2 separate regions of the Homo sapiens genome follow, and region 2 is linked to region 1. Evidence: fine-mapped expression QTL. A gene starts in region 1. The other region holds a variant in brackets. All regions are shown on one strand. Distances are between the middles of the regions.

Region 1 (5,381 bases):
TGCATATACCAGATGATCAATGTCTGATTTCATTTTTTTTGGTAAGATAAAAGCTCAATCTTTCTTTTTCCCCAAAATGTGAGTCTGGCCCCCTGACTTAGGAAGATGATACCTTTCCTGAAGAAGAGTAACTTGATGCTGAGTAGGTTGAGCTCTTTGAAGATTTCTTATGAGAGTCACAGAAATCCTTACTTGGCTGTTCCATGTTCTTTAAAGATGTCAACAAACCTGGCTTTCCCAGTTCTCCAAGCAAAGAAAGAATCACCCAGATTACCATGGGCAAGTGGCCATGATTTGGGAGTCACCACCCACTTGCCTTTCCACAGGCAGAAACAAAGCCAATAATGCAGCATTGAAGGATGACATCCCAGGTAACTACCCTCATACCATCTGCCTTTGTGAAGACAGATGCATGCACTGATGTTACCAAACAACATGATGACCAGAGTAGCTGGTGCCACAAAGTCCAATGGGCCTGGTACTCATACTGGAGATCTAGGTGTAACTGTCTCTAGGGCTGGAATGACAGACATCACCATCCACTCAGTTGTCCAAGCCAGAAGCCTGGGGCTTATCTTTGACTCTGACTTGTCTTTAATTTTCATCCAGTCACTAAGTCTTGTTGATTTTTGAATCAGACTGCCACCCTCCATTCCCATTGCCAAATTTCAATTCAAATCACTGTCAGCTTTGTCTCCATTATTGCAGTTGCCTCTTGTTTTATCCTGCCATGCCATCAGCCTTGTTCCTCTCCAAACCTTTCTCCACAGGAAAGGAGAATTTTTCAAAGTGAAAGTATAATTGTATCATCTTCTTATTTAAAATCTTTCAGTGGCTTTCCACCGTTTTCAGAGTAAGATTCAGTCTGTTAAAATGGCTTACAACAGAACAGAGAACCAAATACAGCATGTTCTTGTTACCGGAAGGGGTCCTGATCCAGACCCCAAGAGACACAAGAAATAATTCAAGGTGAGTCTATAAAGCATAAGGAAGTTTATTAAGAAAGTAAAGGAATAAAGAATGGCTACTCCATATGCAGAGCAACCCTGAGGGCAGCTGGTTGCCCATTTTTATGGTTGTTGATTATATACTAAACAAGGGGTGGATTAATTCATACCTCCACTTTTTAGACCATATACGGTAACTTCCTGACTTTGCCATGGCATTTGTAAACTGTCATGGCGCTGGTGGGAGTGTAGCAATGAGGATGACCAGAGATCACTCTCATCACCATCTCGGTTTTGGTGGATTTTAGCTGGCTTCTTTACTGCAACCCGTTTTATCAGCAAGGTCTTTATGACCTGTATCTTGTGCTGAGCTATCTCATCCTGTGACTAAGAATGCCTTAACTTACTGGGAATGCAGCCCAGGTCTTAGCCTTATTTACCTAGCCCCTATTCAAGACGGAGTTGCTCTGGTATAAATACCTCTGACATTCTCACTTATAAGTGGGAGCTAAACATTGAGCAAACATGGACCTAAACATGGAAACAACACACACTCCAGGCTACTAACTAGAGTGGGGAGGGCGGGTGGTGTGGGTTGAAAAACTATTAGGTGCAATATACCCATGTAGCAAACCTGCAACCTACCTGGGTGCAATATATCCACGTAACAAACCTGTACCTGTACCCCCATTTGTAAAATAAAAGTTGATTTTTTTTAAAGGCTTACAACGCTCCCTATGACCTGGCCCCTGCCTAACTCTTCAGTCTCATCTGTTACTCTCCCTCCAATTGTGTTTCAGCCAAACTCAACTATTCTGTTTCTCCATCAAGCTTTTGCATATATTGTTCCTTCTGCCTCTTCACGCCTCTTGACTCAGTTAAGATGCACTTTTACCCTGTTAGCTTTCAACTCGGGTTTACTTCATCCAAGGACTCTCTGACCCTCTTCGCCCCCAAACTTGGTAACGTTCTTCTGTGTGCTCCCAGAGCACACACCCTGCCATATCAGAGTTGCCTGTTTTGCTCTGTGCATTCCCCACCAGACTGCAGGCTCATTGAAATCATAGGCCACATTTTGTTCATCCACATATCGTAACCACCCTCACAGTGGCCTGGCACGCAATAGACACTCAATACTCTTTCTTGAACGAATAGAAGATAGGAGATTTAAGCACCTGGAAGAGAAATTTTGAGCAGCAGAGACACTGGGAGGCAGCCATTTCAGACGAGGTGAAAAAAGGTTCAAAACCTTCTGCGTCAGGAGCATGCGAGACACAGTCCAACCTCTTCCTTGGCCTCAGCCCCGCCCCGTTTCTTTCACCCAGAACTCGCCTCACCCCCCTGCGCTAGTGACTGCTTGTGACCTCATGCAGGTGTGATGAAGTCGCTCAAGGCCATGCTTGGGCTAAAGACACTTTGATCTTCCCGAGGGGGTGAAAGGGCGAGGTGACAGGAAAGTGCGCGTCTTGCTTTTGCACTCATAGTTATCATCCACCGGGGAGTCGGTACACCGGCTCGTCTAGACAACCAGGCGCCATGGGTGCGTCATCAACTAGTGACGGGAGAAGACGGGGCGGAGAGAGATCCGTGAAGGAAGTGACGTAAAACGAGCGCCACAGAGAACGCGAGCCGGGAGTCCGTGGAGGCCATGGCCCCTCGGCGCCTCCTGTTGGTTGGGGAGGGGAATTTCTCCTTCGCCGCCGCTCTGAGCGAAACCCTGGATCAGAGCACTCAACTTACCGCCACCTGCCTCCAGCGCCCGGCCGAGTTGGCTCGGGATCCACTGGCCTGGGAGAATCTGCAGTGCCTGCGCGAGCGAGGTAGCGAGCCCGCCCCTCTGCGAAACCCCGCCCAGCGGCCGGCGCGTCCCAAAGTGGAAAGGGTGGGGGCGTGGGGATGTAACCCACGTGGAGATTGTTCTTGATCGTCCCACGGATATTCACATAAAGCCGGCTTTGTGCCCAGACTTGGGCTGGTCTGCACGGTTTAAGTTAGGAAGAGTTTTTCTGTTCCATGTCTTGAGGCATCCTCCTGTCTATATTTTGCGCCCCCAAACTATCTTTGCCAGGTATCGATGTACGTTTCGGTGTGGACTGCACCCAGCTGGCAGATGTCTTTGAACTGCACGAGAGAGAATTTGATCAAATTTATTTCATCTTCCCGCATTGTGGACGCAAAGCTGGCGTAGCTAAGAACAGGGAACTGCTTGCCAAATTTTTCCAAAGGTGAGGAAAGGAGCGCCCTCACAAGGAAAATGTTTAAGATGTCCATAACATAGTTACTGTACCCAAACATAAGGCACACGTGCAAGCTACTATGATATGTTTAGAAGAGACTATAAAGCCCCAAAGGAACCCCAAGTTTAGTTGGAAAGACAGATATATAAACCCTAAATGCTAAATGAAAGTACAAATAATGTACTCTTGGGTGTGTAAAAGAGGATCATTTATTTTTGACAGTGCAAAATAATGAGAGCCATATAGTCTAATGGCTAAGAACGTGCACTTAGAAGCCAGACTGCCTGGATTCAAATCCCAGCCCACCACTTAACAGTTGTTATTTTTTTATTTTTATTTATTTTTATTTTTTGAGACAGAGTCTCGCCCTGTCGCCCAGGCTGGAGTGCAGTGGTGTGGTGCAATCTCGGCTCACTGCAAGCTCCGCCTACTGGGTTCACGCCATTCTCCTGCCTCAGCCTCCCAAGTAGCTGGGAGTACAGGCGCCCGCCACCACGCCCAGCTAATTTTTTGTATTTTTAGTAGAGATGGGGTTTCACCGTGTTAGCCAGGATGGTGTCGATCTCCTGACCTTGTGATCCGCCTGCCTTGGCCTCCTAAAGTGCTGGGATTACAGGCATGAGCCACCACGCCCGGCCAACAGTTGTTATTTTAAGCAAGCTTACTTAATCTTTACATGCTTCCGTTTCCTCAACTGTAAACTAGGGATATTAATAGTAACTAACTGGGCCAGGCGTGGTGGCTCATGCCTGTAATCCCAGCAGTTTGGGAGGCCGAGGTGAGCAGATCACCTGAGGTCAGGAGTTTGAGACCAGCCTGGCCAAAGTGGCAAAACCCCGCCTCTACTAAAAATATAAAAATTAGCTGGCCGTGCTGGCACGTGCCTGTAGTCCCAGGTACTTGGGAGGCTGAGGCAGGAGAATCGCTTGAACTTGGGAGGTGGAGGTTGCAGTGAGCTGAGATCGTGCCACTGCACTCCAGCCTGGGCGACAGAGCAAGACTCCATCTCAAAAAAAAAAAAAAAAAAAAAAGTAACTAACAGCCTCATAAAATTATTGTGAACTGAAAACAGTGCTTTACATGATTATACCACAAGACATGATACTATTGGAGGTGTCCGATGGGGCATAGCTGTCAATAAAGTTTTGACAGAGGTGGTATTTTAAACTAGTATTTGAATTTCAGGAGGGCAGTGAAAAGAACTTTCTAAATGGGAAGAAACAGCCTAAGCAATGAATCATATATAGGAACTGTGCAGATATTGATCTTTCTGTGACATATGCATGAATGACACAAATGCAAAGCAGACCCTGGTCAGCCAATCTTATCAGTGAGTGGGTTGAACATTTAATTTATGCTTCTATTTACTTCCAGCTACTTTCTTTGCATTTTTTGAGGTCTAATAGATTTTTGCACATAGGTATGATTGGATTTTAATTATTTCACAGGCAAACCATGTGTATGTTGCCAACTCCTGTGGTAATTTCTGCTTGTTTATGATAATTAGTTAGTGTTTCTTTTCTCCCTATTAGCTGTGCAGACGTTCTTGCAGAGGAAGGAGAAGTCCACGTGGCATTATGTAGAGGACAAGGTGGAACTCCTGCGGATAAGCCCCAGAGAGAATGGCACAACAGTTGGCAAGTGGTTGCCATGGCAGCCCTGGGGGGGCTCATTTTAAGCGACGTGTATCCATTCAGCTGTAAGGCTGTGGCAGGGTACAAGTGCACTGGATATAGGTAGGTAATAGCATAGGTTTAAGCCTTCTGCGTTTTCATCTCTCTCACTAATGATAACAAAATCTCATAGACAGACTCAATAGGCCCTGCCAATTAATTGATTCGGTCTCTAAAAATACTTGCTTATTTTAATAATGACAGACTTCATATTGGTGTCTATTTTGCCAGGAGTCAAGATAAGTCCTTTCATGTAGAAGGTGCTTTGAACCATATCTTCACCAGGAGCTTACCTTTTGAAGGTTCTCAACCCAGAATCTTCAGGATCAAACTGGGTAACCAGTGGTTTTCCTTTCCAGAACCAGAAGCACTTGTAGGAAAGTTGAACAGGTAACCAGTTATTTTGCTGGAAATCACTTCCATCTCCAGTTGTATCCTGATTGTCTTGATGGCAACCATATATTGAATGGATGGTGCATAAATTGTTAGTGATGTTGGTGCTATGTTTATTTGTCAGCCTGGCC
Region 2 (5,381 bases), 31 kb after region 1:
AAAGATCTGTCAAGAATCAATGAATGGATAAATTCTGGGGTATCCATTGGGTTACATTAGTGTGTCATTTACAGTTGTATCATAGAATCACTTTAGTTAGACCTGTTGTGGTGCTAGCTTGAGATTTTCGTGATACCAAATAATAATACTATAATAGATAGAAATAAAATACCTTTTAAATCAAAAAGTACTTCATGATTGTCAGCTAATTTTATTATAATTGGTGAGGCCATTCAGTATACATAAAAGACTTGTATTTTACTAGATGTTTTGAGGCAGTAAAATTGTCAGACAGCGAGATAGCATGTCTTTTGTATTGGAAATGCTAGCTCTTTCACTTTATTACATGTTGGGCACTATTTGGCATTGTTTTGGCTGTTTTACAAGAGTCTCCTGCTCCAGGTGCCTCATTAGCTATGTTAAGCACACAGTTTCTTATCTGAAAATTAAAAATGCATTGTGCTGTATACACCATAGAATACTATGCAGCCATAAAAAGGAACAAGATAATGTCCTTTGCAGGGACATGGATGGAACTGAAAGCCATTATCCTCAGCAAACTAACACAGGAGCAGAAAACCAAACACCACATCTTCTCACTTATAAATGGGAGCTGAACGATGAGAACACATGGACACAGGGAGGGGAGCAACATACACTGGGGCCTGTGGAGGGGGCGGAGGGAGGGAGAGAGCATCAGGATAATAGCTAATGCATGCTGGGCTTAATATCTAGGTGATGGGTTGATCTGTGCAGCAAACCACCATGGCTCAAGTTTACCTATGTAACAAACCTGCACATCCTGCACATGTACCCCAGAACTTAAAACAATTTAAAAACAGGAAAAAAGATAGTTTTTGCATACATCTCTTAGTGCTATTTCTCATGTGTAAGAACATACTAAGCCTATTAATATTTCTTGACTGGATGGACAAATGGGCTTCAGTTAAAGAAACATTGAAGGTCAGGTGTGGTGGCTCACGCCTGTAATCCCAGCACTTTGGGAGGCCGAGGTGAGTGGATCACTTGAGGCCAGGAGTTCGAGACCAGCCTGGCCGACATGGTGAAACCCCATCTCTACTAAAAATACAAAAATTAGCTGGGCGTGGTGGTGCATGCCTTTAATCCTAGCTACTCAGGAGGCTGAGGCACGAGAATTGCTTGAACTCGGGAGGCAGAGCTTGCAGTGAGCCGAAACTGCACGACTGCACTCCAGCCTGGGCGACAGAGGGAGACCCTGTCTCAAAAAAAAAAAGAAAGAAAGAAAGAAAGAAACATTGAATAAATTGCTTTTGAGCATTAATCTTGTTTCATCATAGTACTTACTGTCTAATTAGGCTGCAGACACACAAATAGATAATTACAGGACAGTGTTTTATGTGCTACAGGGGAAAGATAGGGAATCATAGGAGCATGTCCTTCTGGTGGTGTCAAGAAAGGTGCGGCTCTTGAGCTGAGCCTGGAAGGAAGAGTAGGAGTGTCCTTAGTAAATGCAAGAGGGGTACATTTCTGACAAATGGAATGTCAAATATAGGGACTGCTGAAGCAAAAAGATTGAATATTGAGTTCTTTATAAAAACTTATTTTTACAGCATTGGTTGGATTTTAGGTAGAAACTATTCAGACATGAGCAAGATGATTTCAATCACTCCATTGTGGTTATAATCATATAAATGTTTACCCTTTCTATTGTTCCTGGTTTTCTTTTTTTTTTTTTTTTTTGAGATGGAGTTTTGCTCTTGTTGCCCAGGCTGGAGTGCAGTGGGGTGACCTCGACTCCCCGCAACCTCTGCCTCCTGGATTCAAGCAATTCTCTTGCCTCAGCCTCCTGAGTAGCTGGGATTACAGGCATGCACCACCACACCCAGCTAATTTTTAGTAGAGATGGGGTTTCTCCATGTTGGTCAAGCTGGTCACGAACTGTTCCTGGTTTTCAAAGGGACCTTTCTACACTTTCCTGGCTAGGTAGCATGTATTAGTGAGACATTCTAGACTTGAGCTGACACCTTTCATTTGAAGCTGGGGAAAATAAAGGGAGTACATTTTGAAAGATATTAATTACAATATCTTCTGATTATTGAATGCCTACTGTGTGTCAGAAGTTATTCACATACCATCTTTTTTCACTCAAAACACTCTGAGACAGGCCTTATTTATTTGTATTCCTGGATGAAGAAACTGAGGTTGAGATGGTGGGGAATATGCCACATAGTTAAAAAAGTAGCAAAAGTGGGATAAGAGTCTAGTGTTGTCTGACTTCAAAGCCCGTGTTCTTTGCACTGAAAACAAGACCCTTAGCAAAACCCTGGAGTTTGGCTACTGAGACTTTACCAGAGAATAAGCTTACTAAAGCAGAGAGCATGAGTTGAGGGTGGGAGAAGATAGGATCCAATCTATAGAATAGGTGGAAAATTATACCTTTGAAGGTTTGTGCATTTTGGTTTGGAAAGTGATCAGGAGCCCCTAGCGAGCTTGAGTGGCAGAGTGACGTGCACACTGGCAAGTTCTCCTTTTACATGGGAGCGCTGTACCAGACCCTTTTGTTGAAGAAAGAAGGAGTGTTTGGATAAGGTAAAGAACATTTGGCACTTAGAAAATTTAGAATAGGATAGACTAGAATTGTGAAGTCTTAGGCAAAATGTCTCTGTGGGGTCAGAGATCAAGAGGCGAAATTTAGTGTTGCAGAAAAGAAAGTGATTGGTCTTGTCACTGATTTTGCCCCTCATAACATTTCAAGTTCTCAGATGTTGATGCTGGCAAGTATTTTTGTCTGGTGAGTGAAGAGTGGTGCTCTCTGCTGAGGAGTGCACAGGCCTGGAGAAGGCATGGGAATACACTTACAGGAAATACTCTTGCCTCAGAAAGAACAGTGAATCTGCTCAGGTTGCCACTTTGCAGCTTAGGACAGGATCCCATTGCCTGTTTATGTGTTTTATCAACATCTGTCTGATCACTGGATGGAAAGTTTCAGACGATACCCGCAAATGCCCTCTGTTGGGAGGCCCACAGGTTTCCATAATTGCAGTGGCAGAGGAAGAAGCCCCAGTGGGGTCTTATCAGTCCTGCTTAGAATTCACTGCCAGCCAGAACTGTTCTAGAGCCTTTGCTCTTTTGTTAATCATTTCTCTTGAACTTAGTGGCTTTTCCCTCTCGGTGGTACAAATTTGACATTTATAAGGATGTCTTACTATGATTTAGTTCCTACAGGTCTATAAAATTATAACTTTGGGAAGTAGTTCTCCTTCATTCAATCTATGGAGCAGTAAACATTATCCCTTCTTTTAGCTTCTTTGAAAGCTTCCCTTAGCTCATTTGATTGAAAGGACTTGAGGCACTTTCCATAAAGAGGAGGATGGGTGAGTCACTCCCTGCAGAGACCCTGCTGCCAGCTTTCCTTCACCTAAACAT[C/T]TTGCACCAGTTCAGCGTTTAGCTTGTCATTCTGACATGGTTTTTTGCATAGTTCAGCTCTGATGTTTTCTGAGCAGCAGCATTGAATATCTCCCTGAAAAGAGATAAAAGTTTATACCCTTTGCTTTCCTAAGGCAGATGTGTCATCAAGCAGGGGAGGACTCTGGCTGATAGAAGTCACTCTTTTTGTTCCCTTTTGCCCTTGTTTTTAAGACTGTTGACACTTGAACCTTCTTCACTTTTGGCTTATCCCCCAATTTTTGCCCCATCTTTCAGGGAAATAACAGTCTGTTATGAAATGTTCACAGCCTAGTTGGAAACTTGATTTATGAGCTCTGAATACATAAAAATGATTGCATTTACCAGCTTAATACTTTTGTTTCCTCATCTCAGAGTACAGTATACCTAGATAAAAAGATAGCTGTAACAGGAGGGTATAGTAAATTGTGTTAGAGACAAATATTTTCTGGAAGCTAAAGTGCTTTCCTGAAAAAAACAGTCTGTATTTGCAAATATGAAAGAGACAAGTGGCTTTTTCCTATTGGTGCTTGACATCTGTAATAGATAATAGAAAGGATAACCCCTTTTCTGTCTGGTCACTCTATGGTTTTTCTTCACAAGCTCAGATTTCCAGAATCCTGTTAAGAAAAAGGTGAGTCAGAGGTTGCTAGCCCTGCTTCCGCACTGGTGGTCAGGAGAGGATTGTGCAAAAGCTTACCTCTCTGGAAATTGGATCCTAAAGGACTCAGTTTAAAAAATAATGTTGTTAAATTCTAATTAAGATTCAGAAAAGACATTTTTGATTTGAAAATAAAACCATCCGTTAGTTTTCTATAACCCAAATGCATATTTGTAAAGAATACAAGATTAAAATGTCCCTAATGAACTGGGCCTGGAATAGGACCTCTGTTCATGAATATTCTCTATCATTGTATTGAGACAGGAAGGAGTGAGCTTCCCCCAAAGGTGACGCACAGTTGAACTTGAACTTTTCCTTAGTGTAACCTCCCTCCCTCTTACTTCTCCCCTAAATGTTTCTAGCATTATGGGTTTGGTTTCTAATCTTATTTTGCTGTGCAAGCTGCAAGAATGTCAGGTTTTTCTGACTATTCCTCTGCCTTCTGATTACCCTTTTAAGCAATGCTGATTGCAGGAAATTGCTATGGTGCAAGGCGGGTGTCACAACACACAGTGATTAAAACCCGCATGTGTCATTCACTTCTTGATTGAAGTAATCATACAGAGGGGAAAAGCAGATGAAAAACCTGCTAAATGTGCAGAGGGGGTCTGTTTCTCATCATTTGGGTGTAAGGATTTTGAGTTAAAGAATAAAAAATAGTGTGAGTAAGACTTGTGTTTTTAGTGATTTTGCTTCATTCTGAATCCTTAAAGCTTCTCAGCAAGGCCTGGGCCTCTGAACATGATCTAAGAAAAACGGGTTGTTGCTTTATACCAAACACATGTTGCCCAATGTACGCGACTATAAGTGGTTGAGCATATCAAGGGGAAAGATGCTAGAATGTAAATGGGACAAGCAGATGAAAACAAAATGGGAGATGCCTGAATAGCTCAAACTAAGTTCCTTATTTTTATTTTTATTTGAGACAGGGTCTCACTGTGTCGCCCAGGCTGGAGTGCAGCGGCACGACCACAGCCCACTGCAGCCTTAACCTCCTGGGCTCAAGCAATCCTCCCATCTCAGCCTTCCTAGTAGCTGGGATTACAGGCATGAGCCACCACACCCAGCCACCAACTAAGTTTTTTTATCACTCTTTCCTTTGGTCTGCGCGATCTTGAGAGAATAGTTAAATTGAAATGGCAGTTTTATTATTTTAGCCCTATGTGGCTCTAAAGCGATTTAAATTATTTGGTGCTTCTCAAAAGTATTAGTTCCATTGGGGCATAGCAATTTGGGCTAGATATAGTGGTCAGTATAGAAAATACAGCTAACTATTTGAAACTTGATTTCTCCC

Evidence for each region. PIP is the estimated chance that this variant, and not a neighbour inherited with it, causes the effect.
Region 2: its variant is the best candidate, but not a certain one, in a credible set for the expression of FDXACB1 in whole blood (TOPMed, PIP 0.53).

What each region holds. Positions count from the first base shown.
Region 1 is chr11:111,876,347-111,881,727 of GRCh38, reverse strand. It overlaps FDXACB1 (ferredoxin-fold anticodon binding domain containing 1), which reads left to right and starts at 2,563. Exons shown (of 5, transcript NM_138378.3): 1 at 2,563-2,767; 2 at 3,016-3,172; 3 at 4,717-4,920; 4 at 5,089-5,247. The coding sequence starts at 2,596. CFAP68 (cilia and flagella associated protein 68) reads right to left here and starts at 2,187. Exons shown (of 4, transcript NM_022761.3): 1 at 2,123-2,187. The coding sequence starts at 2,167. RefSeq lists enhancers at 2,310-2,779, 2,276-2,895.
Region 2 is chr11:111,844,932-111,850,312 of GRCh38, reverse strand. All of the region lies in intron 8 of ALG9 (ALG9 alpha-1,2-mannosyltransferase), which reads left to right. Among named protein-coding and RNA genes, the nearest start is that of ALG9, 24 kb to the left of the region's middle. The variant C/T (reference allele first, on the strand shown) is at 3,409.